Homo sapiens: one gene and its partners. The protein of the gene in region 1 purifies or fractionates together with the protein of each later gene. This does not show direct contact. Each region holds a gene or a part of one and is shown in the gene's direction. Other genes may lie near its edges. The genes, in order: SIRPD, HIKESHI, EPDR1 and DIRAS2.

The links.
Region 2: the proteins of SIRPD (region 1) and HIKESHI purify together in Homo sapiens (affinity purification with mass spectrometry; 2 studies listed by BioGRID and IntAct, with this or other methods). This does not show direct contact.
Region 3: the proteins of SIRPD (region 1) and EPDR1 purify together in Homo sapiens (affinity purification with mass spectrometry; 2 studies listed by BioGRID and IntAct, with this or other methods). This does not show direct contact.
Region 4: the proteins of SIRPD (region 1) and DIRAS2 purify together in Homo sapiens (affinity purification with mass spectrometry; 2 studies listed by BioGRID and IntAct, with this or other methods). This does not show direct contact.

Annotation. Positions count from the first base shown.
Region 1 is NC_000020.11:1,547,234-1,555,397, reverse strand, and holds part of SIRPD (signal-regulatory protein delta isoform 1 precursor), read left to right. Parts: intron 1-3,348; exon of another isoform or gene 3,349-3,359; coding exon 3,360-3,707; intron 3,708-5,204; exon of another isoform or gene 5,205-5,350; intron 5,351-5,539; coding exon of another isoform or gene 5,540-5,589; exon of another isoform or gene 5,590-5,647; intron 5,648-5,798; coding exon of another isoform or gene 5,799-5,944; exon of another isoform or gene 5,945-8,164.
Region 2 is NC_000011.10:86,332,408-86,340,571, forward strand, and holds part of HIKESHI (protein Hikeshi), read left to right. Parts: intron 1-3,556; exon of another isoform or gene 3,557-4,526; intron 4,527-4,971; coding exon 4,972-5,123; intron 5,124-8,164. UniProt on the Homo sapiens protein: Acts as a specific nuclear import carrier for HSP70 proteins following heat-shock stress: acts by mediating the nucleoporin-dependent translocation of ATP-bound HSP70 proteins into the nucleus.
Region 3 is NC_000007.14:37,923,298-37,931,461, forward strand, and holds part of EPDR1 (mammalian ependymin-related protein 1 isoform 1 precursor), read left to right. Parts: intron 1-8,164. UniProt on the Homo sapiens protein: Binds anionic lipids and gangliosides at acidic pH.
Region 4 is NC_000009.12:90,610,998-90,619,161, reverse strand, and holds part of DIRAS2 (GTP-binding protein Di-Ras2), read left to right. Parts: intron 1-5,298; 5' UTR 5,299-5,334; coding exon 5,335-5,934; 3' UTR 5,935-8,164.

The DNA of each region.
Region 1 (8,164 bases):
TGTCTAACTACAACTTTATAGGCTTTGACCAGCATCTCCCATTTCCTTGTCCAACTCTCCACCACCCCAGACCCTGGTAACAACATTCTATTCTTTACTTCTTTGAGTTTGACTTTTTTGGATTCCACATATAAGCGACATTCCACATATAAGCAAGATCATGTGGTATTTGTCTTTCTGTGCCTGGCTTATTTCACACCATAATATCCATGGTGTCATAAGTGACAGAATTTTCTGATTTTCAAAAGCTAAATAGTATTCTACTGCATGTTTGTGTGTGTGTATGTGTGTGTATAATCACATTTTTATTCCTTTATACATTGATGGGCACTTCAGTTGTTTCTATATTTTGGCTATTGTGAATAACTGCAATTTTGTAGAACTTATCTTGTAGACATTTTGTGTATCTGCCATGAACTCAATGTCAGTGTGGCTTGTGTGCTACCCAAGAATACACAAGAGCAATTAAGTACTAAGGAATAAGATTTTGTTTGGTAGAATTGATCATTGACAAACCAACCATTGTAATATCTAAGATAATCCTACACTCCAAAAACCAGTTGTGACCTTTTATGGAAAATAGCAACTTCATTGAGAATGCATGCCTCAGTGTTTACTCTGGGAGAGGTGAATGAGTGGCCTTTCACACCACAGAACACCCGGTATGGGAGGGAGCTGCCTCCATATGCAGGTCACTCCATATGCAGTATGTTGGTTATCAACATACTGTCCTTAGCTTGGGGCAGTATCCCTGATTTTGAGACAATTAGAAAAATCTGACCCAAATTCTATTTTGCATTTTCTCATTTAATAAAAATATACTCATATATTTATTTAAAATATGTTTATTTAGTGCCTAATATATTGCAGGCCATCCTCATATCCCGATGCAGAAGGAAAGTGTCATTCTCCTATTTGTACACTGGTACCTCCCCTTCACCTCACATGGCACCCAGCATTGTAATTTTTATATGACTGGTGCCATCACATGATGCTGAAATAAAGCTATCATACTGAGATCCCACCTTGACCTATAACCAGACCCTCAGAGCATCTTGAGCCAAGACAGAGAACATAAGAGATGATTCCATGTTTATTTCCAGGAACTCCAGAAGAAGAGTTCCAGGTGAAATAGCCTCAGACTTTAGTGTCAGTCAATCCCGGAGATGTCCTAACCCTGGCCTGCAATATGTCTGCTCTGTCCCCAGAAGGGCCTGTCTTGTGGTTCAAGAGCATTGGGCCAGGACAACAATTAATCTTTAGTTGCAATGGAAGCCACTTCCCCAGAGTAACTCCAGTGGAAAACACAATGGTTGATCAAACTGACTATTCCATTCGCATCAGTGACGTGTTGCCAGAGGATGCTGGCACCTACTACTGTGTGAAGTTAAGGGTAGGACACCCTGACATGGAGTTTTTCTCTGGTCCAGGCACCACCGTGTATGTGAATGGTGAGCACAGCCTGATGCACTTTATTCCCTGGGTTTATGAAGATGAATCTTTAAAACCCTTCACCATGTACCAAATCATCACTACATACTGAACACCATGCTCCTTTATCCACGAACTACCCTGTAGACTAGGTTTCTTCTAATAGCCTTTCTAGTAAGCCATTCTGGACAACCTGTGCCAAATACTGAATCAAGCTATGTTGACAAGCCACATCCTTCTCTGATGCCAACCCCACCAGAACCCAATGACATAGGAGACATTTACAAATAAAAAGATACTGGATATGCAAGGTGCAACTACATGTGTGCACTGCATGGCCTAAATGGTAAGAAAACTGGGTCCTAGAAGGCTGACTGACTTCTAAGGTTTTACGAAGAAACCTGGGCCCAGGTATATGCATTGTGTATATTATGACTTATTCCATGACCCTGAACTTCCAGTCACAGATGCTAGTAGCCACATCTTAGCTTCTGATGGAATCTCAACATAGGTGAAGTTTTCCCCAAAATGCCCAGTATCTCCTGGGCCAAAACAAAGGGCTCTTCAGGCAGGTAGAATCTCTACATGCCTCCATGATCCCAGTCACCTTCCCATTACCAACTGGAATGTGATGGGGACCTGATAGCAAGTACCTGAGTGGTCACCACAGTCCAGTCTGAGATCACACTCCCATTCCCCATACAAGTCAATGAGTGGATGTGATCTCCTACCATGGCCTGGCACTGTTGTTAGGGAATTCTTAGACCAGAATGAGGGGTCTTGTGTATCAATCTCTCCAAAGTCTTTTTTGCAAAAAGCCTTCCCATAGGGGTTGAGTCATTCCCTGACACTTGAACTTTCCCAGGTCTGTCCTGAGACTTCCATGCCCAGCCCCACTGTTCTTTAATTCCCAGTATTTTTATTCCCAGGATAACCAGTATTTCCTTCTCCTCACCACCCTCTGAATTAACGTCATGAAATACAGTGGTATTAGGTGTCCCTCAGTTCTACCAGGAGAACTGACCTTCCCAGTAATGTTTCCCTTGAATCCAGACACATTCCATAATGCCAAAATGGCAATGGAAAATCCACAGGTTTCCCTTAAGTTACATAATGTCAATGCAGGCTGCCTTCCTACCATTACCTCCTGGCCCTGCCAGCCAGGAGTTCCCTTTCTCTCTAACCTGCTCCTTAGGCAGTCTGTGGTTTTGACAACCAAGCTTAATAGGAGAGATTATTACCAGGACCTGACACATTGTAGGGTAGTGATGATGACTGTGTAGGAGGGTAAAGGGTGGCTGGTGAGAACCTCCAAAATTGTAGAGGGCCCTTGAGGTTCTAATCTCTTTTTGTTGAGGAGAGGAAACCCTCTCCCTTCTCTCTCTTGAAGAGATAAGTAGTGGAACCATATGCTGTTGCCAAGACCACCTCATTCTTTAATTGTTTTAACTTCTTCTGTGCATCTCTCAGCATGAATTTCTGTACAAATTCAGAGGCTAATCACCCTTCAGAGGAGAGAGGAAGGCCAACCCCAAACTCAGTGGAGATGTAGGGTTGAAGGACAGGACTTGAACCCAGTTCCAAATGTACCGAGTGACTCTAGGCAATTAGATGGATAGGGAAACTAGTCTTTCTCCAAGAACATTACCCATTGATAATTGCCCCTTCTCTCTCCCTGTCCTCCTCTTACCACGGTTGAGGGCTGAGGAATGGAACTGAGGAGGAATACATCTGGTCTTCTGGACTAACTCCCTTCCTTCAGCACTCTAGGGAGAAGCTGCCTCCATGTGCAAAGGCCTCTCTTTACTCAATGCATGGGCATTTGCGCATGTCATTAAAAGAATTAATGAATGAGGCCCAACCGTGACCCGTACCCATGCTTAAGCCAGAACAGGGGAAATGAGAAATGATTTTCAGCTTTTTTCCAGGAGTCACACATGTGTTCCATGTGCAACAAACGGAGATGTCACAGACTGTATCAACTGGGGAGTCAATCATCTTGAGTTGCAGCGTACCCAATACCTTACCAAATGGACCTGTCTTGTGGTTCAAGGGAACAGGGCCAAACCGGAAATTAATCTACAATTTCAAACAAGGTAACTTTCCCAGAGTAAAAGAGATTGGAGACACCACCAAGCCTGGCAACACAGACTTTTCCACCCGCATCCGTGAAATCTCTCTTGCTGATGCTGGCACCTATTACTGCGTGAAGTTCATAAAAGGAAGAGCTATCAAGGAGTACCAATCAGGTCGGGGCACTCAGGTGTTTGTTACTGGTGAGTATGTCTCCTATACCCCATACCCCCTGGTGTATAATATCATCTCAGCAGTTATGTCTTCTATTCATTCAATAATTGCTATGTGCCAAATATTATTGAAGGTACAACATACATTTGATCTTTTTAATTCTCTCAGCAAGCTGTGAGTTAGGTATTTTACAGGAAGAAAAAAAGACTTGAAAAGGTTGAGTGATGAGTGATAAGAGCTATTTTGGTTGATTTCTCAATATTTAATCCACCCCCATGACTAACCTAAGCCAACTAGGATAATTCCATGTTCCCTGCTAGAGGTTTACTCAAATATGGGCTGAACTTGGCCAGTTTGGGTCTATCAGAGAAAAAGACAGGCTTGCAGAAAAATCTGGTAATCTAAAGTAATTCTTCCCTTTGTTGGCTGGAAACAAGCAACTGTGTTGCTCCAGGTGCTTTAAGCAGGCATCTTATGACCATGAGGGGAATAAGGTTGAGAAAAAGTCTAGATGAATGCAGATATGTAACAAGTGTGGATTGACAATCTGCACAACCATACTGCTCCTTGTTCCAATCTCACCTCTGGACCTCTAATAATGTGAAAGAAAACATCTCCTTGCTAAGCCAATTTGCTTAAATCAACAATGTCCTAAGGGCTACAAGAATGATAAAAGTCGCACATCCCACAGTGTGTTGTAGTGTGTTGAACTGCAAGTACAAATCTATGTTTCCCTGCATCCAAAGCCTTTTTCTTAGTGTTTTGCTACTTGTGGTGCCCTGTGAAATTTGGGCAATATCCAGCCTGAGAAATTATTAAATTGGTAATACAATAATGCTAACATTTATTGGGCATCTACTATATTCCAAACATTTCATCTATATTATCTACACAGCAACATTTGAATTGCTGGATGCTTGTACTCACTGTACAGATGAGGAACCTAACTCAGGGAGATTTCAGGAGTGTACATAGTAGGGAATAAAGAGGTGGGGTTGGTCTGGGCCCAGTCCAGTATGTTCTATATTAGTGAAGAACATTTACTTACAAGAAAGAAGATCAAATGCATTAATTTCAACCAAAAATATGAGTTGATTGATTCTGTACCTGCAGAGGATTCTGGGTTCCTCACAGTATTCAAGGCAGAACTTTTGGAACCAGGGACTAAAGGATTGGATTTAGGGCTTAATGTTACCAAGACTGTGGCTCTCTGAAATTCTCTCATCTCTTCATGGCTTTAATCTTTCCTGCTGCATATAAACCTTCAGTATATGATAGCGAAAATAAATGCAGAAAATGTTGATATTCATTCCCCCATCTTACAACCAAGGTGGAAAGACAGCTTCTTCCTACCAACCTTCACAAATGAGTTCTAGGGAACTATCCACATTAGCCTTTTGTATGCCATGTTGTCAACATTTTATTCGTTGTTGCTAGGGAGAGGAGGTCCATGGGAGATAACCAATCAACCCAATGGAACAAATGCTAAGCAGGTTGAAAACAAAATATGTTCATCCACCACATGGTCCACACCCTACCTTATCAGATGAGGAAGTTGAGCCTCTGAAAGGTTAATGGGCTTGTCTTCCAGGTTATGGGTACTGGAACCCAGGTAGACTCTTCTCGGAACCCTTTGGGTTTATGGCTTTGCCTCCTTCTTAGTAAGAAGTCTCTAGTTAGAGTGGAGATATAGGAGTGCATGACAGCTGTTTAGAGGGAGAATACTGTGAATGAGTTCAATATCTTTATTAACATTCAAATGTTCTGAGTCAGAAATGTACCAAATTTATGCCATTTCTTAATAAATAAAAATGTATACATATGTTTTTAAAATACTTAGCTATGTATTCGTTTCTTGTAGTTGGTGTAACTAATGGATACAAATTTGATGGCTTAAAACAACAGAAATAGACCACTATGGGTGGCATAACAGCACAAGGAGTTCCAAGGGCCCACTCCATGGAAACTGGTGAAAATTATTTTTAAAAAATATTTAGAGGCTCTGGAAATAGTATTAAGGGCATATCATAAATGAAGAAATAATTTTTAAACTACTAAAACTGGGGAAGAAAAGTAAAAGTCTGATATTTGAACCAAAACCCACCTTTTCCCTGTCAAAGGCTATACCCCATGGCAAAGAAGAGGAATCAACTGCACCAAAATAATCCATCCAGTCACTCAACAACTGTACAAGCAGATGACAATAACAAGCCTCGGTGGTTGTGAGGAAGACCAATATCCAGAGTTTCTACAATGTATTATCTAAGATGTCCAGTTTCAAAAAAAGTGAGACATGCAATAGAACAGAAAACTATGACAAGTATACCAAAAACAAACCAAAAAAAAAAAGGTATCAGAAACTGCTTGTTATGGCCATCAGATGTCAAACTTAACAGGCAAAGCATTTGGTGTAACCATTACAAATATGTTCAAAGAAACATGATTAAACAAACCATGATTAAATAAGTACAAGAAAGTAACATGATAATGTTGCATCAAATAGAAGATATCAATAAACAGAAATTATTAAAAAGAACCAAATGGAAATTTTATTATTCAAAAGTACAACAATTGAAAGAAAAATTACCCTAGAGGGGATTAACAGTAGATTTGAAGAAGCAGATTTAGCAAATTTGAAAATAGATTAATATAAATTATGGAATCTGAAGAACAGAGAAAAATTAAATGAAAATAACATTTAAAAAATGAACAGAGCCTCAGAGAAATGTAAGCCATCATTAAGCACACCGCATACATGTAATAGGGATAGCAGAAGGAGAGGAGAAAGAGAAAACAGCAGAAAAAAATATTCAAAGAAAGAATAGCTGAAAACTTCTCAAGTCTATTTAGTCAGCTGGACCGGAGACTGAAAAAGGAAACTCAAATTACTAGAATCAGAAATGAAGGAAGGAACATTACTAGCAACTTTATAGAAATAAAAAGGAATATTAAAGAATACTATGAAAAAATGTGTGCCTATAAACTAGGTTTATATGATGAAAAAGACAAACTCCTAGAAGACATAAAAATTACCAAAACTGGCCCAAAAATAATGGAGCATTTCAAGATACCTATAACAACTAAACAGATTAAATTAGTAATAAAAAATTACCCTGATATCGACACCAGACAAAGACATCACAAGAAAAAAACACAGATCAAATATATCTTACGTATATGGACACAAAAATCCCTTAAGAAAATACTAGCAAACTGAAACCAGCAACATATAGAAAGCATTATTCATGTTGACCAAGTGGGATTTATCCCATGAATACAAGGTTGGTTTAATATCTGAATGTCAATTAATTTAATACAACACAATATCAATAAAATAAAAAAGAAAACCACATAATCCTCTCAAGATGATAAAAAAAAAGGAATTTGGTAAAATCTAAAATTCTTTTATTTAAAAAGGTACTCAAAAAACTAGGAATAGTAGGGAACTTTATCAACCTGATAAAGAGCATGGATGCAAAACCCATAGCTAACATCATATTTAGCAAAACCGAAAGCCACAGCCAATGTCACAATTAATGAGGATGGTTAGATGCTGTCCCCAGTAGATCAAGAATAACACAAGGATATCTCCTATCACCATTTCTACTCAACGTTGTACTAAAATTTTTAGTCAGGACAATTAAGTAATAAAAACAATCCAAATTGGAAAGAATGAAGTAAAACTATCTCTATTGACAAATGGCATGTTCTTGTACATAGAAAATCCTAAGGAACCCACTAAAAAACTATTCAAACTACTGAGCAAGTTCAGCAAGCTTGAGAGTACAGTTCAATATACAAAAATCTATTACATTTCCACACACTTGGAATGAACACTAAAAATAAAAATAAATTTAACAAAAGAAGTGCAAATTTATACTCTGAAAACTACAAAAAAATGTTAAATGAAAGAAGATCTAAACAAATTGAAAATTTTCCCATTTTCATGGACCAGAAGATTTAACATTCTTAAGATGGCACTATTCCCCCAAACTGGTCTACAGATCCAACACAATCCTTATCAGAATCCCAACCTACTTTTTTGTAGAAATTGACAAGCTGATCTTAACATTCATGTGGAAATATGAAGGATCCAGAATAGCCAAAACAATCCTGAAAAATAAAGTAGGAGAACACACGTTTTTCTTTCAAAACTTACTACAGGCTGGACGCAATGGCTCACGCCTGTAATCCCAGCACTTTGGGAGGCTGAGATGGGAGGATCGCTTGAGGACAGGAGTTTGAGGCCAGCCTGGTGAACACAGTGAAATCTCATCTCTAAAAATAAATAAATAAAATAAAAATAAAAGTTCACTACAAGTCCACATCAATCAAGATAATGTGGTACTGGAACAGGATAGACCTATAGACCAATGGAAAAGAGAGAGTCCAGAAACAAGCCCATGTATCTGTGGTCAACTGATTTTCAACAAGTGTGATAATGAGGAAAGAAGCATCTTTTCAACAAATAATGCTGAAACAACTG
Region 2 (8,164 bases), on another chromosome or scaffold:
GTAGAGGTCTTAAAGAACAGAGAGGAAAAAAAAATAAAGAATAGAGATAACATTTACTTACATGTTTTTTAATAGAATAAAACTCATTTTATCTTGCAATTACCATATGGACCACTTTGTAAATCTAAGAAGCATTTGGGGATATTACTGGTCTTACTTTACCTATATATTGAAGCATTTTGTTATTTCATCCAGGAAATTATTTTATCAGTACTCATCAAAACTATACTTACAAAAAGGGGGCTAAAATAAAAAAAGAAAAATGTTGGAATTAGCTAGAGTAGAAGTTGGCAAACTTTTTTGTGAAGGATCAGTTAGAAAATATTGTAGGCATTGTGGGCTACATTTGATCTCTGTGGCATATTATTCTTAAACAACCCTTTAAATATTTGAAAACCATTCTTAGCTCCCACGTCATACAAAATAGGTTGTGGGACCGATTTGGCCTGTGGGCCTTGGTTTGTCATTGCATTAACCTACAATTTTCATGTTGCATTGCCCAAAAGATTATGCCACCTTTTAAGTAATATAAAAGGAGACTGGAGACACCATCTTTATGGTCTCTTTTTAGCTTTTATTGAACAGAATGTAAATTCATACTTTTAAATATTTTGTTCATAATGGCAAAGAGAAGAAAATTGACAGAGGAAGAAGTTTCACAATTATTAGACAAATCAGAAAATGAATACTGAAAGGTAAATTCTACACTGATGACGATGGTAAAGTGGATCATATAAGCAAAATTACCTACTATGAATCTTCAAATAAGATCTCATTATCTGAGTTTTCTCAACTAAAAATTTGATGATTGAACAATGTATTTTTAAGGATCAAGAGAAAATATGAGGCCGGGTGCGGTGGCTCATGTCTGTAATCCCAGCACTTTGGGAGGCCGAGATGGGTGGATCACTTGAGGTCAAGAGTTCCAGATTGGCCTGGCCAACATGGTGAAACCCCGTCTGCACTAAAAATTTGAAAATTAGCCGGTGTGGTTGCACAGGCCTGTAATCCCAGCTACTCGGGAGGCTGAGGCATGAGAATTGCTTGAACCCAGGAGGCGGAGGTTGCAGTGAGCCAAGATCGTCCTACCGCACTCCAGCCTGGGCAACAGAGTGAGACTCTGTCTCAACAACAACAACAACAAACAAACAAAAAAAAAAAAGAAAAGAAATATGGTATTCTACTCAGTCATTTAAGAAGAAGGAATTTCTCACATAATATTTTGTCATGGACAAGTAGTAAAGGATGTGTTCTGCTATTCTTTTATCTCTTATATTTGTGTTCCAAAATAGACTGGATATGGTTTTATAAATAGACAAATGCTGAAAGCAGGGGTGTATAGAGAAGTGATTGGAAGGAAATAGGTATAGGAATGAAAAAAAAAATAATTGGCTTGATCATTCTAAATAATGGTTATAAATCTAAAAATGAAAATATTTTGCAAAATGTAGATCAGAGGATAGCCATCCTTCAACAAATTATGAGCCGTTAAAGGTTTCAAAACTTCAAGCTTTCAGGTATTATATTATGGCAATGTAGATGCCAAAAAAAGAACAAGATACAACCATAAGCTATAACTTTATTAATAGATATCTGACTTATGAAATTTATAAAATGGATGTGTTCCATAAGACGCATGTGTTCCATGTTTATCCATGATGGTTGATGGGCAGTTGTATTCACAGGACATAGCCCATTTCAGCTATATCTTAAAAACAAGGAAAATGTGGAATGACTATCTGGATTTGCTGTACTTAAATACTTAGAAAAAATCTAATAAAGTTGTTTTCCACTATTTCCTGATTCTTCTCAACATTCTTTGTAAAATATGTGTGTGTGTGTGTGTGTGTGTGTGTGTGTGTGTGTAAAGTTTCCATTAGATGCAAATAACAAATGATGGTGACTGCTTTTCCTTGTATACTGAGAATAAAGAACTAGCTCCCTGTAGGAATTTTTCCTCTGAGTTGTGTTTTGTGTTAGGCTCTTGATTTACATGGAGGAGGGATGCTTTGAGAAAGAGTCTTAAAAAAAATTAGCTGCTGCATTTACTGTTAACAGTGTTTTAAAGAACTTGATCTAATTTACATTTGTTTTTTATATTAAGACTAGGTCATATATTTTGCTTGCTCTTCTTTGTATTATGATTTATAATTTATTATTTTTGCATCTATTTGATGATATGCTTTGATAATGATATGTTTTCTGGATTTTAGCATAATTCTAGATTTAAAAGAAATCAAACGGTAGAGTAAGGAGCTCCAGAAAATCCAGTCTTCCATAAAAGCAACAACAACACTGTCAGAAGATCACAGCTCACTGTAGTCTCGATCTCCTAGGCCTAAGCGATCCTCCCACCTCCACCTCCCAAGTAGCTAGGACCACAAGCATGCACCACCTCGCCTGGCTAACTTTTGTAGAGATGGGGTCTCCCCATGTTGCCCAGGCTGGTCTCAAACTTCTGGGCTCAAGCAGTCCTCCTGCCTCAGCCTCTGAAAGTGTTGGGATTACAGGATATGAGCAACTGTGTCTGACCCAGAATCAACTTTTTTGGAACTCTGGTAACTAACCAAAAGCTTGTAGCAATCAGGGGAACATTTAATCAAGAAAATACACTGAATCTCAGTAAGAACAGTGAGCTTTGTGGCATTTGGCTACCCTTGTCCCATCTGCTTCTCAGCTCAGTGATAGCCTTGAAAATAACAGACTCCATTCCTGGTACTGATATAGGGAGCAGGATAGACCTAATTCAGAAAGAATTGTAATTAACTTGTTTTCATCTGTCTGGTGGCTTGCTAGAAGACTGTTTAAAAAAAAAGAGGTCTGCCTTTATGTCACCTAACTTGGAACTCTTCATGGAAAAGTATCTACCTTGGGGGTGTTTGTTAAAAGTATTTACAGACATATGTTTTAGCTACTGTTGCCCGAGGCAAAGGAAAACAGTTGGAGTAAACCAAAACTAACCAGAAAGGTTGGGAATGAGATGCTTTGGGGAATGAGGGCTTTGAAATTCTCTGACATATTCTTGGTAATCTAGAAGGGTACGTGCATTCCCAGAGCTTTGTGCATGCTCAGGAAAGACCCGCGAAGACCCAGAGCTCTCTCTTCTGGCTCACTTTAAGTCTCCGCACAAGCAGGAAGTGAAGACTAAGGTGGAGTTATAAACTGCCTGGCTGAATACTAAAGGCATGTCCCAACACGCAGAGCCCATCTGCAAAGACTGGCAGAATTTTTTGGTTGCAGAGGTTTAAGGAAATTTCTTTCTAATCACTAGCAGACTACTAACTAATGGAACAGAGACTTCACTGGCCACACATAACAAAGAAACAGACTTTACAAAATTAGTTCAGATAAGTCATTAAATGAGGAAACAACTACAATAAACAGCAACAACAAACCCCTAGAAGGTGGAAACATCTGATTTATAGCGTCGTCACATTGTAATATTCAAAATGTCCAGTTTTCTACAAAAAATTATGAAACATACAAAGAAACAAAGTAAGGCTCTTATACAGAGGAAACGAACAGAAACTTCCCCCAGGGAAGCACAGGCAAAGACTTTAAGTAAGCTGTCTTTATTATGCTCAAATTGCTAAAGGAAACCAGAAGAATGATACATCATCAAATAGAGAATATCAATATAGAAATTATAGAAAGGAACTAAACAGAGTTTATAGCTGAAAAGTACAGTAACTGAATGGTTCACTAAAGGGCTTAGATAGCAGAATTGAGTAGACAGAAGAAAGAATCAGTGAAGTCGAAGATAAATTAATTGGAATATCCAGTTTGAAGAGCAGACCCTTAGAGACCTGTGAGACACCCTCAAGTGCACCAACATGCACAGCAGACACAGTGTAATGAGAGTAACATATGGAAAGGCGGGAGGGCTGGAAAGAATATTTGCTCTGGTCTGAATGTTTGTGTCTTTTTATATGATGAGGTCTTTTAAATTTATATGCTGAAATCCTAACCCCCAAGGTATTGGGAGGTAGGGACTTGGATGGTGACTGGGTCATGGGAGTAGAGCCCTCATGAATGGGATTACCACTCTTAGAGTAATAAGAAGATCACTTGCCCTACTACCACGTGAGAACACAGTGAGAAGGCACTGTCTGAACCAGAAAATGGTCCTTCACCAGATACCAAATCTGCCGGTTCCTTGATCTTGGACTTCCCAACCTCCAGAACTGTGAGAAATAAATTTCCGATGTTTATAAGCTACCCAGTTTATGGTGTTTTGTTATAGCAGCCTGAACAGACTAAAACAATATTTAAATAAATAATGCTCAGAAACTTCTCAAATTTGAGGAAAAACATTAACCACATTTAAGAAGCTCAAGAAACTCCAAGTAGGATAAACTACACCAAGACACACGATAATCAAACTGTCAAAAGGTAAAGAGAGAATGTTGAAAGCATCAAGAGAAGTAACTCATCACATGCAAGGATCCTTGCTAAGATTAATAGCTGATTTCTCATCAGAGACCCCATAGTCTTCTAGACGGTAGTGGATTGGCATATTCAGAGTTCTGAAAGGAAAAAAAAAAAAGCCATCAACCAGGAATTATATACTCAGCAAAACTGTCTTTAGAGATGAAGGAGAAATACTTTCCTAGATAAACAAAAACTAAGTCATTGCTGGCAGACCTGCTCCATAAGGAATGCTAAAGGGAGTCTTCTCTATTAATTATTTATTTTTCCCACACTCTGTTACTGTCTGTGTCTAGTTGCAGTAGTTTCAATACATTTCAGAAATGTGACAGCTATTTTTCTGGTGGGAAACTTTTAGTTCTTTTATTCTTTGTTAATATGCTAAAAACGAAGTAGGCTTTTGCATTTATCTGAAAAGAGGGACAAACTTGGACATAAAACTTTTTCATGTATATAAATTAGAGGTTCTTTATAAATTTACAAAGGAAATTGTGTGACTACAAGTTTAATTTGAAATGTGTGTCATATGTTAATTTCTTGCAGGAGAAGGAAGCCAACATCCTTTTGGAGCCATGAATATTGTCCGAACTCCATCTGTTGCTCAGATTGGAATTTCAGTGGAATTATTAGACAGTATGGCTCAGCAGACTCCTGTAGGTAATGCTGCTGTATCCTCAGTTGACTCATTCACTCAGGTAATGCAACATACATTTCATTCTTTACCTCCCCCTCCACTGCTTTATTAAGGTATAATATACAAGTTAAAATCGTAACTTAGGGTATACAATGTGATGTTTTTGATACATGTTTACATTTTGTTTTGTTTTATTTTGTTTTTGAGAGATGGAGTCTTGCTCTGTTGCCCAGGCTGGAGTGCAGTGGCGCAATCTCGGCTGACTGCAATTTCCGCCTCCCGGGTTCAAGCGATTCTCCTGCCTCAGTCTCCTGAGTAGCTGGGACTACAGGCACATGTCACCACACCCGGCTAAGTTTTGTATTTTTTTTTTAGTAGAGACAGGGTATTGCCATGTTGGCCAGGCTGGTCTCGAACTCCAGACCTCAGGTGATCTTCCTGCCTCGGCCTCCCAAAGTGCTGGGATTACAGGTGTGAGCCACCACACCCAGCCTATATTTTGACATAAAATCAAGCTACTTAACATATCAGTCACCTCACACAGTCATCATTTTTTTGTAGAGAACAGTTAAGATCTGATCTCTTAGCAAATTACAAGTATACATTATTAGTAACTGTATTCTCCATGCTGTACAATAGATTTTCAGAATTTATTCATTCCATTGAACTGAAACTTTGTGCCCTTTGACCAACATGTCCTCATTTTCCCTTCCCCTCCACTCTTCAACCCCTGGCAACCATCATTCTACTGTCTGCTTCTGTAAGTTCAACTTTTAGATTCCACATATAAGTGAGATCAATCATGCTATTTGTCTTTCTGTTCCTGACTTCTTAGCCTATTATCAAGAGGAAAAATTGATGATGTAGGAGAGCAAGGAGAACTGCTAAAGCAGTGTCCTTGAGTAGAAAATAGCAGCATATATGGAGGTGTTCACTTTAGACAGGATAATGGATATATGGGTACAGATTCAGGAGGCTGGTAGATGTGGTGATGAGAACTTGTGCAGGCTGTCTCCTGATTTCTTCTTGCTTAGTGAAATAGAAAGGACGATCATCAGCTAAGATCGAGGTAGTAGAAATTGAAATAAAAAAAGACTACTAAATAAGTCTTCTAGCAGAGGAGGAGTGAATGGATTAGGGAAACCATATGTGTTTGCCTGGCAGTACCAGAGGCGCACTTTTGAAGGTTGTGGTCATGAATGTAAAGGTAGATTTGTCACATCTTTGAAAATGGACTGAATTGAGAATGACAGACTCTGGGTCTCAAAAATGTTTTTTTTCCCATAATTTTACAAATAAGCTGCTGTGCTGAAAACAAACTATAAAATAATCGTAGTATCCTGTGTAGACAATATTTTAAAAGTGTCTGGAAAATACACATTAAAATGTTATCCCTGGAGAAGGGTAAGAAGACTTTTTTACTGTACATGTTTATAAATTATTTGAGTTTTTAAAATAAAACTATAGTTTTAATTAAATGTATTACGAAATATTTTAAATACAGAGAAAATAGAGTAACTTATATTTTCCACAAATAGTTATTATGTAACTACTCTGTACCAGGCATGTCTTTTTTTCTTTTTCTTTTCTCTTTGAGACGGAGTCTCACTCTGTCGCCCAGGCTGGAGTGCAGTGGCGCGATCTCGGCTCACTGCAAGCTCCGCCTCCTGGGTTCACGCCATTCTCCTGCCTCAGCCTCCCAAGTAGCTGGGACTACACGTGCCCGCCACCAGGCCCAGCTAATTTTTTTTGTATTTTTTCGTAGAGATGGGGTTTCGCCGTGTTAGCCACGATGGTCTCGATCTCCTGACCTCGTTATCCGCCTGCCTTGGCCTCCCAAAGTGCTGGGATTTCAGGCGTGAGCCACCGCGCCCAGCCTGTACCAGGCATTTCTAAGCACTCATAGATACAAATAGGTCCACAAAATAGAATAACACCTGTCTTTACAGAGCTCTCTTTATGGTGGGGTATACATTAAGACTTCCATTGTCTTCCCCCTGGATTTAACTGTTATATTTTGTCTTATTTGCCACTAATTTTTAAAAAAGAAATTAAGGCATTATAGATATAGCCCACTGCTGCCTGCTTCTCTTCCTGCCTTTTACCTTCTAACTTTTTATATCTTTCCTATTCATATTTTAGTACTTAAAAAAATTCCTGTGTATCCACAAAATATGTATAGTACTATCTGTATCTGTTTAAACATGTTTCTAATTTAATTACTTAGTTACTCCAAATTTTTATGAGTATTACATGTATTTGGTTTAAATAGTCAAATAGTTTTTTTTTATTATACTTTAAGTTCTAGGGTACATGTGCAAAACGTGCAGGTTTGTTACATATGTATATATGTGCCATGTTGGTGTGCTGCACCTATTAACTCGTCATTTACATTAGGTATTTCTCCTAATGCTATCCTTCCCCCTGCCCCCCACCCCAAGACAGACCCGCCCGCCGTGTGTGATGTTCCCTGCCCTGTATCCAGGTGTTCTCATTGTTCAATTCCCACCTATGAGTGAGGACATGCGGTGTTTGGTTTTCTGTCCTTGTGATAGTTTGCTCAGAATGATGGTTTCCAGCTTCATCCATGTCCCTGCAAAGGACTTGAACTCACCCTTTTTTATAGCTGCATAGTATTCCATGGTGTATATGTGCCACATTTTCTTAATCCAGTCTATCATTGGTGGACATTTGGGTTGGTTCCAAGTTTTTGCTATTGTGAATAGTGCCGCAGTAAACATATGTGTGCATGTGTCTTTATAGCAGCATGATTTGTAATCCTTTGGGTATATACCCAGTAATGGGATCACTGGGTCAAATGGTATTTCTTAGTTCTAGATCCTTGAGGAATTGCCACACTGTCTTCCACAATGGTTGAACTAGTTTATACGCCAACCAACAGTGTAAAAGCGTTCCTATTTCTCCACATCCTCTCCAGCATCTGTTGTTTCCTGACTTTTTAATGATCGCCATTCTAACTGTTGTGAAATGGTATCTCACTGTGGTTTTGATTTGCATTTCTCTGATGACCAGTGATGATGAGCATTTTTTCATGTATCTGTTGGCTGCATAAATGTCTTCTTTTGAGAAGTGTCTGTTCAT
Region 3 (8,164 bases), on another chromosome or scaffold:
GGGGGCAAGTGAATGCATTAGGGAAGTATTGAAGAGGTTCAACTGAGGAAAATGTACATGATTGGACGGGTTGTGGCAGGCGTGGTGAGGGAGAGGAAAACGTTAAAGAGGCCCCCATTTTTGGCTTGTGAAGCTAATGGTACTGATGGCATAGGGTAGATGGTGATGCTGTTCCTTGCAACAGGGCTTGACTTTGTGCACTTCTAATTAAGGGTGCATTGGTATCCTATGTAATTTTATGTGAAGACTTGTACAGTAGTGGCGCATTGATGAATAGTCATATTGAAGATGGACTGGGATGGCCGAGAGCACACTGCTGAAGCAGAGGAGTGTGTCAAAGAGAAGGATAAGGGTTCATCTCTCCAAAGGTAGTATTTTTTTTTTTACAATTAAAAAAATTAGACTTTAGAGTCAGACAAATCTGGATCTGAATCCAGACTCTGAATATGGGTCTTTGGGTAAGTTAATAAAGCTTTCTGAGTCTCAGTATCCTCATTTACAAAATGTGAATACTTATAATGCCTAATTTATTGGATTATTATGGGAATTAAATGAGCTCAAGTGTATAAAACATACAGTACAATGTCTGATAGTACGCACAAGATGCTCTGTTCATGGCCAAGGTTGGTCCCATCGCTACCACTATCATCATTATCCTGGTAAAGTTACCATAGCCCAGAGACTTGCTGCCAGCCCTTTGGGCTCAGAAACTTGATACAGCAGCACACACAGACCCTTCCTTTGGGAACAACCTTCGAGTAAGGAAACTCAAATGCTAAACCTGTCTACTTCAATGAGTCTTATTGCTGGCATGAGGACCAGCATTCTCAAATCCACCAGACTAGGTCATTCTCTCCCTGTAGTCAGAACTATGTGGGGAGCCAAATTATCATCAGGCAGTTGTGAGCAAAGAGTTGGAGCAAATTCATTGAGCAAACATCTAATGATTGCCTGCCCTAGGTTAGGCTGTATGCTCAATGTGGAGTTTTCCATCATGAATAAGACAGGCCAGCCTGGGGTAAGGTTTAATGGTAATCAGGCAAAGGCAAAGTGATGCATTGATTTTCACAATAGAGATGACTTGGTGGTGGTTCTGTGCTACCCCAACTGTGCTGTTCCTGACCCCTTCCACTCAGAATGGACCCTTGGTGAGTACTGCTCAAGTCTGTCTGAGCAACCCTTCTTCCATGACTCCATGACTGACTAATATAGCCTTTAGATGTGTGTTTTATACCTTTAGTGGAGTCACAGCCAACTCTTGCTGGCTTAGAAGCATTTTTGTCCCTTTGCGGTGATTTCTCATTCCTCTGCCCTAATCCAATAGGTGCTGGTTTCACAGTTAAACTTCTAAAAGACATTGTTTTCCCTTTCTTTCCGAGTTCTTGGCAAGGTTCTTTCTGACAGTCACATCGCTGGCCCTAAGTCAGATGTGGAAAAGAATGTTTAATGCATAAACACATTTTTAAGCTCTTTAAGTGTAGATTTGTTGGAACAAACTCAGAAACTTTTTCAGGTATTAACAGTCTGGCCAAGCAACCAGATGTTATTTGAAGAAAATATGGATGAGTTGTCTCTTCATATTTATGAGTAAGTTGAGAAGTAAGTTTTAGAATTGGATCAACTTCTTAAGATTTTCATTTTGCATCCAGATAGTTATGGAAAATCCCATTGATAGTTACTGTGGAATGACTAGGATTTTCCAGGCTCTGTTTTCCCTGAGATGATGGAAAAGATTAAACAACTTTACAAGCTTCAGATAAGACAAGCCTGAGCAGCAAATGGGAAATATTAGTAATTGATACCATTTTATTTTCTAATTCCAACTGTCTTTTCTGACTCCTTGATTAAATTCACAAGTATTTATTTGAAAGACTGAAGGAAATCAAGAAGATGATTTTCATATTTCAGGCAGCATGTTGAACTTTATAGGGGAAGCAGCGTTGATACACAATGAACCCTCTCAGGCCACCAGTAACTATAGGCTCCCCCTTACAAAATGGTGGCTTGGGTGTTGGAATCAATGAAGCTCTTAATGCAGAGTGAGCAGAGAGGCAGTAAAACAATATGCACAGTCTGGTATCTTGGAATATTATTTCATCACCAGTCGTACATGTTCTATTAAGGATTTGTATTTGTAAAACATGAAAAATATGTCACAAATGGGGCAGCAGGTGGATTCTTATTCAAATTCTGATTAATTCATGTCTGCTTCTCTTGATTCTCCCAGAGCATATTATTTCTTGGAGAAGAGAATAGCATTAACCTCTTTTTTAAACAGAGAATCAGCCTCCTGTAGTGGAGAGAGCAGGGGCATTCATGTTAGACCATGATGGAGTGACAACCATGGCTTCTAATCCTGCCTTCACCCCAATAAGGTCCTCAACATTGCAGAACCTCTGTGTTTTTCATCTTTTAATTTAATTTGAATGATGCCTACAATGTTGATACTAAATCACTTTTAGGCTTTCATTTGTTAAATGCTAGGTACAGATAGTATTAAATGATATCCTGAAGGCACCAATTGTACTTTTATTATATCAGGCTGATTCACTGTTTCTAATGCAATGAACTTGACACAGATTTTAAATTTTTTCTCAATCTGTCCCATTGTGTAGACAAATTAATTCAAAGTTCTTTTTCTTCCTTCTCTTTTTCATCTAAGCCTGTGCTTATGAGTAGAAAAAGAGAAGAGGCTACCTTGAAATGCCTCGGGCCCAAACTCAGAAGGCTCTGCACTCAACTGAGCCTCCCTTCCTACTAAGAATGGAATAGTGTTGCTTATAGGGGTGTTGGTCCAAGTATCAGCTGTGGATGATTAATTCCCAGGGCTGCTATCACCTAAGGTAACTTCAGTAATCTTATGTGTTTGGAAAGGAGGATGAGGATTATTTTTCAAATACATAATTTTGTTTTATTTTGAAACAATCTCACACCTACAGAAAAGTTGCAATTATAATACAAAGAGCTTCCCCCTCGCCTGAACTGTTTGATAGTAAGTTGCCAAACTGATATACCCACGATCCCCAAATGCTTCAGTGTATTTCCTCCCAGCAAGGACATTCTCCTGCATAACCACAATACAACCATAAAAGTCAGGAGATTAACACCAGTTCATTTTGACCATCTGAAATTCAGGTGTCATTCATGTTTTGCCAGTTGTTCTTTGTATGTTCTTCATAGCAAAAAAAAAAAAAAAAAAAAGATTTAAATGCAAGCATTACACTTAAGTGTGGTGTCTCTGTGGTCTCTTTCTGTCTGGAATAGTTCCTAAGTCTTCCTTGCACTTTAGTGCTTTTAAAGATTGCAGGCCAGTTATTTTGTAGAATGTTCCTTGATTTGGGTTTGTCTGATGTTTCCTCATAATTAGATTCAAGTTACTTACCTTTGGCAGGAATATCAGGGATAATACTCTGTTCCAATTGCATCCTGATGTTCACTTTGATCACCTGATTGACTGTTGTCTGCCAGCCTTCTTCACTGTGAAATGATACATTTTTTCTTTTTAATTAGTAAGATTTGGTAGGGAAATATTTTAAAACCATGTACATATCCCATTCTTCATTAATCTTCTGAATTATACTTTATTTGTATCAGTGTGGACTCAAGCCTTCTAATTTTGTTCTATTTGCTCTCGTTGTTTACTTTGCTGTTCATAATGTCCTAGATTTGGCCAGTGGAAGCCTCTTCAAATTGGTTTCTATGTTCTTTTGATGTGTTTGGGCACTTCCTTGCTTTCCGGCACAGCAAGATATTTCAAGATCATCTATACTTTTCCTGCCCCAGTCCTAGGATAAACCATTTTTCAAGAAGCCCTGGTTACTTTTCCTGGAGAATAATATGTGGAAGTTAGAACCTGTGCTCTGGTCATGCTCAGTGCTATCAGGTGGCACTGCTACCAGGTCCTCTCAATGGACAAAGCAAGGGGTGTTAAGTTTGAATACACACATCCCTCCCCACACACACTCATACATATATACACATTTACATCTATATTTATTTCTGAACCTCCAGTTCTAATCCATACAGGTGTTTAAACTGATGCCTTCATTCTAATCCAACACTACATGGTTCATTCTAGTTTTTTTTTTCCTTTCATTTTTGCTACTCCCTTCTCAGCCAGTGAGAAAACTGGCTTACTATTCAATTGCAGTAGGTAACCAGTCATGTATCATTACGCTGTCTCCTTCACACATGGGCTCTGCGCTCCAGGCCAGCCCATGTAGAAGCCTATCTTCCTTGGTCCTACCTAGTGGCTTTAGTCTAAATTGTTCAAGAGAAAGGAGTAGATGAAATTATGTTCTTAACATATGTTTGTATTGCTTTTGGATTCTCAGTATGTCATCATTACAAATCCTCAGAGGGTGTTTCTGTGTGACTGGGGGAGGCAGACTAATATAAAGTGCTCAATAAATCTATTTGATCATGAATCTTGTCTTGCATGGATTGGATTTTCATTTTAAGAAATCACGACTTTGTGAATATTAAGAGCATGACTTCTCCTTTGACCTTTACTCCATCATTTTGGTCTCAGATGGCTGGAGATAGCATATTCTTTTGTGAGCTGAGGAAGTCTTGACTGCTTGTGGCCTCCTGATCCTCAAAGAATAAACCATACTGATTTGCAATACTTGAGTTTCGCAATATTTGAGTTTTTCTTCAAGAAACAGATTTTCTTGGAAGCACACAAAGTTTGATTTAAGGGACTTAATTCAGTGTGTCTATAGACCCTGGATTTCAGACAATTAATGCTGAGATGGGGAGGGAGAAGCAGGCACTGGGGAAAAAAGATCCAAAGAAGATAAGCCCAGGAGAGTAAGGAGGCTGATGGAATGTAAGACAAATTTACGAATGGAAGCCAGAGGTGGTCACTATACTGCTTTGAAAACATCTTTACTTTCTCCAATAACCTTGAGCTGTTTCTTCCTGATTCTGACCTTGAGGATGGTGGTCAGGGGCAAAGTGCCCAAAGATCTGAAAATATTCCACCAATTAGTGGTTTGTTTTTCCTGGAATAAATATGATAGTCTTAGATTTCACCAATTCCAGTAAAAAATTTCTATTTTCCCCCTTAACATTTTCTTTTATTTTACCCATCTTTAAATAAAAAAAAAAAACTTCTCTTGATCTTACCAGCTGAAATCTCATTCTCCTCTTCTATTTAAAGCAAATCTCATGCTAACTACAATTTTTGTACTCCCATGCTCTCTTGAACACCCTCCAATCACTTTTGTCACCATTCTATTGAAAATACTCTGGTCAAAAGCAAGAAGCTCTACATTACTAATCAACCAATCTTTGATCAGTCCTCATCTTATTGTAGATTAATTCCCCAATCTTGATGCACTGTCTTCACTTGGCTTTCAACATGCTAGTCTTCTGGTTTTCCTTCTCCCACCTTATTTCCTCTCCTCAAGCCTTTTTGCTCTTTCTGCTCTTCTCTGGACTGCTAATAGTGGACTCTCCCAGGGCTCAGGCTCTCATCTCTTTATGTTCCTACCTATACCCTAATTTTGATATATACTGAATCTGACCATACCTCTACTGTTATTCTGGCCCAAACTTTTATTATGTCTCGGCTGGATGTTTATGATAGCCTCCTAACAGTTGTCCCCACTTCGGACCTTGCTCCCTTTAGTCTGTTCTCCACATAGAAACCCCAGGGGTTCTCTTGAAAATACGTCATGCCACTTCTTGGCTCAGGATCTGCTCCCCAGCCTTTTCCCTACCTTATCTCTGTCACCAGCTCACTCATTGTGGACCTGGCCTCAGCACGCTGACCCCATTGGCACTTGAATCTGTCATTCCCTCTGCCTAGAAAGACTTTTTCCTAAGAAGCTGCATGACTTACTCCCAAATTGAACTGTTTCTCTGCTCAACATTCTCAGTGCCCCCTCACTGCTTTATATTAATATATCCAAGGCACTTATGACTATCTGGCAGAGTGTTTAACGTTAAAGTTTGTTCCTTCATCTCCCCCACCTTCCCTCATGCACAATAAGGCTCCGTAAGGCCAGGGGTTTTGTATGGTTGTTGCTGTGTCTCTAACTCCTCAGAACACTTTACATTCTTTTCAACATACTATGTGGGACCTAAACGAATACTTGTCCCATATGAAAAGAGCTGTGTTCTGATGTCGGAGAAGGCGATTCCCAAGCTCCATTTTCTAACTGCTAAGAGCAGGGCCTGACTAATTTTTATTTTTTTTTGAATCAGTGAATGAGGGAAATGAATAACTGATAATATACATTCATTGTAGAAGGATACCTAAATAATAGATATGTATTTTCTTTCCTTTTTTCCTTATAATTAAATTTCTTAGACAATAAAATGATAGATTTATGTAATGGTTTCATGGTTTTTCATTTATATGTTACGTTATACCTCTTTTCTGTTAAGAATGATTTTTGACATCGAATTACACTGCAGTGTTTTGAAAAGTTTTCCAGTAGGGTTGAAGTGGAGGGCACACCACCACCTCCAGAGAGTGGATGCCCCAAACTCCTTTCGCCCATGAGCCACTCCCCCACTGCCCTCTCATCAAACACTGTCTTCAGTGTCTCTCTTGTGCCTCAATTTCAATTTTGGGGAATTTCACCCAATGTGGGCATTTGAGATTTATTTCTAAAGCACCCACAGTTTCTCAGAAGCAGTGCCTTTTTGAGTCGGGAGGCCATCTGAAGAGGAATCAGATCCTTAGCAGGGTGCCTAAGTTACCCTCAGTCCCCCCAAAGAAAGGAGAAACTCTTGGGATGATGGCTCCCCTAAAGAAGGCAACTTCTCCTGGAGGAAAAGGATATACATGCCTTGGATGACTCCTGCCCGCTCACAGAAGGCTGCTTTTGTTGTGGCTTAAAGTTAGATCTTCTGGTAGAGTTCTAGAATGTGGGCCCTGCCGATGAGTGACAGCCAAAAGCTCACCTTGGAAGAGGCACCAGAGTCACAGCCCCAGCTCTCTCAGGGAAGACGCTGCTCCAGAGCATCTCAGAAGCCACCAGGGAAGACAGTGGCAGATGGGAAGCCGGTGGTGCAGGGCCAAGGGCACAGCTCTGCCTGACGCAGCATTGTCAGCAATAGGTAACATATAACTTATGAGGAGTATCTGAGTACCAGCAGGCACTCTTGGGAGTGAAGGATGGGGGAAGAGAATCTGCCCCAGACTTCATATCCATTGGAAATGCCACATCAGGTGCTGTATCTTGGCATGGATTGTGTTTCCTGTAGGTGTGGGAGTTCTTCTTCTCACAGTCAAGCCCTCCACCTGTCCCTTGTCACACACCCTGTCCTTTTGAATAGAAATTCTCATCCTAGCCCAGCTTCAGGCACGGCCTGGCTTACCCTTGGACCCCAGAGATCTCACCCTTCTGAGGTCTCAACTCTCCTTAAGGAGTTAGGAAATGAAGCTTGGGAATCCACTTCTCGGACATCAGAACACAGTTCCTTTTGCACAGGACAAGTATTTATTTAGGTTCCACTTAGTATATTGAAAAGAATTTGAAGTGTTTTGGTGGTTTGTAGTCCTCTTTCATCATGCTGAATCAAGCCTCAAAAAGGTCAATTTCTGCAGTTGTTAAAACACAGAGGAATTTTTATAGTGTGTGTGTTTGCATAAGTTTATAAGGAGCTTTGTCACAAGGTCTTCTGTTTTAGAGAAACAAGCCATTTTACTCCTTTCATAGTTCACTGCAATTTATTTTATACTAATTTTCGTATTTACCTTTATTTCAATTCATGTTTTAGTCAGCTAGAGAAATTATTCAATTTTTTTTTTCAGAGAAGACACTAAGGTTGCATACTTTCAGAGATTTTCAATGTCTAAGCACATCTACTTATTGCCATTTAAATAATGATTTTTTTTGGTGTATACAATTTGGGTAAAAATAGTCTTTTTGCTTAAATATGTTTATGGCATTTACAGCTCTCAAAGAGAAGTCTGAGGCCAGGTGCGGTGGCTCACGCTTGTAATCCCAGCACTTTGGGAGGCCGAGGCGGGTGGATCACCTGAGGTCAGGAGTTTGAGACCAGCCTGGCCACCATGGTGAAACCCCATCTCTACTAAAAATACAAAAATTAGCCAGGCATGGTGGCATGCGCCTGTAATCCCAGCTACCCAGGAGGCTGAGGCAGGAGAATTGCTGGAACCTGGGAGGCAGAGGCTGCAGTGACC
Region 4 (8,164 bases), on another chromosome or scaffold:
AGCCTTTGTTTTGTTTTTTGAGATGAGTCAGAGTCTCACTCTGTTGCTAGGCTGGAGTGCAGTGGTGAGATCTTGGCTCACTGCAACCTCTGCCCCCCAGGTTCAAGCAATTCTCCTGCCTCAGCCTCCTGAGTAGCTGGGACTATAAGCATGCGCCACCATGCCCAGCTAATTTTTGTATTTTTAGAGACAAGATTTCATCATGTTGGCTAGGATGGTCTTGATCTCTTGATCTTGTGATCTGCCTGCCTCGGCCTCCCAAGTGATGGGATTACAGGCTTGTTATAGTTTTGATTTGCACTTCCCTGGTGACTATTATGTTGAGTATCTTTTCATGTTATTGACTTATTATTGGCTATTTGTATATCTTCTTATTGACTATTAAATATAGTCAATAAATTCATATATCTTCTTTTGAGAAATGTCTTTTTAAGTCTTTTGCCCATTTCTAATTGAGTTGTTTTGTTGTTGTTGAATTGTAGAAGTTCTTTGTATATACCAGAACTAGTCCCTTATCAGATATATGATTTATAACAATACTCACTTATCCTGTGGGTTACTTCTTTCTTGATTGTGTCCTTTAGTTTTGATGAAGTCACATTTACCTAGTTTTAATCTTGTTGCTCATACTTTTGGTGTCACATCTAAGAAAACACTGTTTACTCCAAGGTTATCAAGGTTTATACCTATGTTTTCTTCTAAGAGTTTTATAGTTTTAGCTCTTATATTTAGGTATTTGATCTATTTTGAGTCAGTTTTGTGTATGGTGTGAGGGAGAGGTGCTCCCCTTATTCTTTTACCAGTTTCAGCGTCATTTGTTGAAAAGACTATTCCTTCTGCCTTTTGAATTGAATTTTATTGACACCCTTGTCAAAAAACAATTGACTGTAAATATGAGGGTTTATTTCTGGACTCTGAATTCTATTCTGTTCATGTATCTGTGTATCCTGTGTTAGTACCACAATTTCTTGATGTATTATATCCTTGTCGTGAGTTTGAAATCAGGAAGTATGGGTCTGCCAGCTTTTTCACTTTTAATTTTTCAACATTGTTTTGACTATTCTGGGTCTCTTGAATTTTTACATAAATTTTGGGATCGGTTTGTCAGTTTCTGCAGAGTCGCTAGTGGGATGCTTTTAAGAATTGCATTGAATCTGTAGGTGATTCCTGGAAATACTGCTATCTTAGCAGTAAAAGTCCTCTGATACATGACATGGGGTGCTTTTCCATTTATTCGTGTATTCAATTTCTTTCAACCATGTTTGTAATTTCCAGATATGTTTTGCATCTTTTGTTAAATTTATTCCTAAGTATCTTACTCTTTTTGATGCTATTATAAATTGAGTTATTTTCTTAAATTTCATTTTCAGATTGTTCATTGCAAGTGTATAGAAATACAGTTGGTTCTTTATATGAATGTTGTATTCTGAAATCTTATTGAATGAGTTTAATAGCTAGTTGCCCTCTTGTGAATTTTTCTCCTTGTCCATCATACTGCTCCTTTATGAACCCCTTATCTGCATGGTCCTTCTTGAATGTAGCCAAAAAACTATGTGCTGAGAGCTGTTCAAGTGCTTGATTGCATTGTGTTACTCCCCACATTAGTCTCATAAACAACTTGGCATTATTATATCCATTTCCTAGCTAAAGCAACTCAAATGCAGAAAGTTTAAGTAACTTGCCAAGTTCTCTCAATAGCATATAACAGATTGGGCATGTGGTATTCTCCTTTCATTCTACATGCTCTCTCCCTGGAGAATTTTTGTTTATTATAGTGCTGTTTGTGTATGAATGGTATCCAGATATTTATCACTAGATGAGTCCTCTCTGCTGAACTTTCACACTAAATCCCAATCACCTACCAGATATCTCCCCCATTTGTCCCATAAACCTGACCCAATCACAGCTCCTTTCTCCTTGTTGTTTACTGTCATTTCTCTAAAGCTGCTTCTCTCTTCTGCCTTTTATCTTGATTGATGGTGAGTGCCACCACTCACTTGCTACCCCAAATTCACTCCTGGATGCCAGTTTACACAAGCTGTCTACCATGGCATGAGCATTAGCTCTATTTCCTCCATTTATTCCTTCCTATGAAGTTCTTTCTTCTGACTAACACGCCTTTCATCACTTCACCATCTGGCAAGTTCCAGCCCTCTGTGAAATGCTTCCTGAGGGCTCCAGGCAGAGCTAGATTCCCCACTAGGTTCTTATCCTGCCTTTGTTGATAACTAGATCACAGCATCTGCGAAGTGGGGCGTAATGTATACTTTCCTATGCTTGTCCCCCCTCTAATGCTGTGAGTGCTGTTGGGTAAGCACTGAGTTTGCACAGTATCTAGAAGACATTTTATAAATGCTTGTGAAATAAATGAATGGTTCTGACATGGAAGAAAATAGTTTACAATTTTTTTTTTTTTTTTTTTTTTGTGATGGAGTCTTGCTCTGTCACCCAGGCTGGAGTGCGGTGGCATGATCTCAGCTCACTGCCACCTCCACCTCCCAGGTTCAAGTGATTCTCTACAGTCTGGGTTTTTGTTAGTGAGTTGAAGATCACTATGGAGTTATTGGCCCAGGCCTATCTCATAAATGCACATTGAACTTTATACCCCTTCAACTTTCTGACTCCTGTTCATCTTTCAGATTCATGCTTCCATGCCACCTCCTTAGTGAAATTCTTCCTGATATCTCAAATTTCATGAAATTCCTTCAGACCTCTCTTTTGCAGCACTTGCTATGATATAATTTATTAAATATTTATGAAGTTATCTTTTGGATTGATGTCTGCTTTACTTGATTCTGAGTTTCATGAGAATAGAGATCCTTCCTTAAGTCTGTCCTCTGCACAGTTGTTTTCTGGCCGCTTGTCCACAGCCTGGTTTAGTGGAAGCTCAGTGGATATTTCTCTGGGTAAATGAATAATTGTAGCCATGAATACTTTATTTTATGTTTAGCATTTACTTCCTATGTGTTCGTTGCCAGTTTAATAATGGAGACACCTTAACATAGCTGACCACATATTCAGCAAACTCATAAAGAGTGTATGTGCTGTGAACCAAGAGATCTTTGAGATACATTGGGATGCAGAACTTGTTAAGATATGTTCTCTTCCAGCTAGATGCTTATGCTCTAGTCTGGAGCTACATAACCATAATACAAGGCAAAACGAGTGAGGAAACTCCCTTCTAAGCAAAAAGAGAGCTTCATTCTGAGGATGTAGAAAGAAGCTTAAGATTAGATTCCATTGTCCATTTTCTATGGTTTAAATGTGTTCCCTAAAAGTGCATATGTTAGAAATGTAATCCTCAAATGTGTATGTTCATGGTATTTGGAAGTGGGGCTTTTAGGAATAGATGAGGTCATGAGGAGGCTGGGCAATGCCTGTCATGGCATCAGTGGCTTTATAAGACAAGGAGAGAGACCCTAGCTGACATGCTTGCTCTGTCTTATCATGCCATGCCCTCCAGTATGTTATGAGGCAACAAAAGGCTCTCACCAGATCCAGCTTCTTCATATTGGACTTACCATCCTCCAGAACTGTAAGAAGTAGATTGCTTTTAAAATTATTTCATCTGAGGTATTCTGTTATAGTGACAGAAAACAAACTAAGACACGATTGAGTTTTTTTAAAAAAATTGTGGAAAAATTTATCACAATGCTTCACCCTTGAATTAATCATAATTATCTCATAAGCATTTAATAAACTTCACCAAACTCCTAAGCAGACTCTTCTGCCATCTTTTGGTGTTAATGAACTTCCTAACAGTCTTTTATATTTTCTGTTAGCATTGATGTTTCCTTAGCTTCTTGGAGGGTTTGGGATTCCAAAGTGCATGCAAGAACAGCTGAGTATTGAATCGAGCAGATTTGTAGGCAGACGCATGAGGCAAAATGAGAAGGTGGAATACCTCAGTCCAGGGCTTTGACCTGATGTTCTGTCTGTCAGGAGAACATATTCACTGCACAAATGCATTTCCTTCCATTGGTAGTTATGTTTAATATTTTTACTGGACTCTAAAACTTATTTGCTTCAGTAAAGCTTTTTATTGTTTTTCCAAAGTTGCCCTAAAACTAGAAAGGTGAAAAGTCAGCACAATGCCTGCTTGCTGAGAAGAATGAATTCCATGCTTCACATTACCATGTTACTTATCAACTTCAGTTTTAAAAATGTATCCAAATTGTGTAATTCTCTATTTTGTTTGGTGTTATATGTCCTTCCTTACCGAAGAAGGTACAGAATGAAAAAATTTTGATAGATTGTAAATTAAGAAGGCACATCTACACATCCCTGAATAAAAATAAATATTAAACTAGGGGTGAAGTTTGTGATGAAGAGTTGCTGCATTCTCCTCATTTTTAATGACCCTTAAAAAGTAGTTTATGCTACTATCCTGGTAATACCTGATTCCTTATGTTTCTTAAAAATAAAGCTTATATAATCATCTTAATTTTGATGAATGAAATGACTATCCACACTTATTAGTTAACTCTTCATACTTAATGGAGACAATCTATACTATGGCCTGAGTAACGCCCAAGTCACTGGGACCAGCTCTGTCTACAGACAGCTTATGGGATGGGCATTGACATCCACAATGCTTTGGTTGTATCCTAGCCTTCCCTCTTATTGCTGTGTAACATCAGAGACATTCCATTCCCGATCTCTTCCTTGTTTCCAGTTTCATCATTGTACAACAGAGCTAATGGCACCAACTCCTGCAGAGTGGTGAGGATTTCATGAGTTAATATAAACACTGAATAAATATTAGAACATCCTTTTCCCTCATTCATCTCCCTCTCCCAGTATTTCTCACACACACACACACACACACACACACACACACACACACACACACACATTATGATGACCAGTATATTGGGTACTCAGTACTTCAGGTAAAACAGCAAAGATATGCTGCTGTTGATGATGGTGATGTGTGTGTGCATATGTGTGTTTGTGTTTTTACGGGGGTAGTTAATTTATCTTCTCATTGCCTTTCCTTGGTGCTGTCTCTCGGGCTCACTTTGCATCTTTTACCTGGGCTTAGGGCCTATGTGGGAGCAAAGATGCTCATTGTCATGGTCCAATAAAGAGAAACAGATGGGCTCCAGTGAGCCCCTGAGTAGATCGTCTGTCCTTTTGAAAACGGCGGATTGACCAAATTTATTGGATTTAGAATTGTCGCTATTTTAAATGTTATCACCTCCCATTTTTAAGCTATCAAAAGAGGGTAGAGCTATCCTTATTAATGTTTTTATATTTTAATTATTAATTCTTTCAAACATCTGGTTCCTTTGCTAGGTGCGTCCTGGCTGAGAGTTGGAGCTCTCCAGCAACATGCCTGAGCAGAGTAACGATTACCGGGTGGCCGTGTTTGGGGCTGGCGGTGTTGGCAAGAGCTCCCTGGTGTTGAGGTTTGTGAAAGGCACATTCCGGGAGAGCTACATCCCGACGGTGGAAGACACCTACCGGCAAGTGATCAGCTGTGACAAGAGCATATGCACATTGCAGATCACCGACACGACGGGGAGCCACCAGTTCCCGGCCATGCAGCGGCTGTCCATCTCCAAAGGGCACGCCTTCATCCTGGTGTACTCCATTACCAGCCGACAGTCCTTGGAGGAGCTCAAGCCCATCTACGAACAAATCTGCGAGATCAAAGGGGACGTGGAGAGCATCCCCATCATGCTGGTGGGGAACAAGTGTGATGAGAGCCCCAGCCGCGAGGTGCAGAGCAGCGAGGCGGAGGCCTTGGCCCGCACATGGAAGTGTGCCTTCATGGAGACCTCAGCCAAGCTCAACCATAACGTGAAGGAGCTTTTCCAGGAGCTGCTCAACCTGGAGAAGCGCAGGACCGTGAGTCTCCAGATCGACGGGAAAAAGAGCAAGCAGCAGAAAAGGAAAGAGAAGCTCAAAGGCAAGTGCGTGATCATGTGAAGGCCCTTCCTGCGGGAGGAGCAGCTGTGTGTCCCCGGCACCTCACTCCCCCAAAATGACACCCACCGTCGTCAGGGTAGCATGTATAATGCCCACGTGTTAAACATTGCATTTAATCGAGATGCGTCCTATTGTCCTTAAGAGGGCGTTTCACACCACCAACAGTAAGCCACCCACTCTGGAGTCACAGAATCTGCCAGGCGGTTCAAGTGAAAACCAACACACTCAGCATCCCTGGGAACTGAGAGGTGCCAGCAATTGCTGAAGGTGGCGATGAACACCCGAAGGTGGGAGGGAGGACTGGTACCCACAAAGCAACATGTACCGAGAGGACTAAATGTCATCTACGTGCATGTGAGAGCGTGTTAACCTAGAGTTACCTGCACCAACCCCAGACAGAAGCCAATCACATCTTTGGGGGAGGGGAGGGGCAGGAAGAGGTGAGAAGATCAGATGGTCCAAAGTGGACCACACTTGGTCCATTTTACACTTTTTTAAAGGGGATTAAAAAACACAGCCTCTCCCCCAAAGGGTGTCCGTTCTTAATTCCCACCTGGCCTGTTAGGAGCCTTGCTACCCTGAGGGGATGTGTTCACCTTACCTAGACCTAGTTAGGAAGTATCATTTTAAGCTATTAGAGTATTTATCTTCATGTGCAGGGATAAGTGCACTAACAGTGTGCTGCTCTGTCGGAAGTTCTTCAGTTTTTAAGTGAGGATATCGTGACAGTATTAAAACATCGCAATAATGTTCCTGTGTGTTATACATCGAGGGTTTTAGAAATGTGATTTTCTTCTTTTGACCTGTGAGGAGTATAACTTCTTTCAGCCCTCAGATTTTAAATACAAGCAAATAAACTCACTATTTTTAGACGTTTTTTTCCTCCAAGGTGGTTTTCTTCTCTTAAATAACTCGATCTGTACCCAGCTGGGTAGCAGCCAGCAAAGGCCATCAGACAACCAGAAGCACATCCATTTTTGTAGTGTCACAAACATGTATATGCCACACTTTGCACCTTAATGAAATACTTTGAAACAGAAGTTATTCACTGTGTTTTTGATGATCTATCTGTATTGGAAATATGTTCCTGGAAAATGCATTTAAATAATAGTAAATTCTCTTGCATGTTCCATTATACGTGTCTTCTAAGAGCTGTTCAATACAGTATTCACTCTAGAAACAATTATCTTTTTCTCTTAATGATTTTGTGTGCATCTTTAATCTTTCAAGCCAAATTACAGCTATTTCAGGTTTCCTGTGTTAGCTTGGGGATAGGATGGTGGCTGGAGACAGGCAGGCTTCTCTGCCCTGGGAAGAGCCCACTCAGCTTAATTGCTCTGCCATCGTAGAGCCTGGTTGGACTTGGCTTCCTGAAAACTCCCACTGATAGTGCCTGTTAGATCTCCTGTTTGTTTCAGTTGGCAGAACATTTACTGGCCCCAACTGTGGCATCATCCTCTCAGCAGTCTTCCTGTCACCCGCCTGGCAGGCAGAAGGAGCTGCAGTCCCACGTGGGCCTGCCTGGGGGGGTGGGGGCTGCATGGCTGTTGGGTGGCAGTGTCAGCACAGGGAGGGCTTAAGTTGGGGATGTTTGACCAGGCCACCTCCTGCAACTGCTGTTTCTCCTGTCCCTCCTATGCAGGGCTTGCAGCAGCAGCAGTGTGGCCATCTCCATCCCCCAAAGCACACTTGCTCTCTCAATATGTCCTAGTTTTCTTCAGCCTTTTCTGGTTCAGTTCCCTTGTCCTGATCTCATCCTCTCTGGTCTCCCAATAACTCACCCTTGGGATGTGTTTAGAGCGTGGGAGGTGCCTTTGAGAACTGCTTGACTCCATGATCTCCTAGAACAAAACCGCCCTGACTTTACAGGGGGAACACTCATGCTGAGCTGAGAAAGCAGAGAAGTGGCGTGGGAGCCAGCTGGGGGTGAAGAGCATTTGGGCCAGTCCCGTGGCCCCCTTCAGATTCCTCAAGCAGGATTGTTCTGTTCTAAAAAGCTGTTGCACAGCATTCGCAATGAGATCTTTAGTTGGCGGATTTTCTGGAACATTTGTTTTTCAACTTGTCCCGACATTTTTTTTCTGTTTCTATTCTGAGAGAGAGATGATCAAGTTTTAATTTGGGTATAGGTTAAATGGAAGAAGAAACAGAACTTCATGGCCAAAGTAGACCTATAGATTTTGATTGGGTTCTTTGTTAACAGTAGAATGCGATCTTTGCCACTGACTGT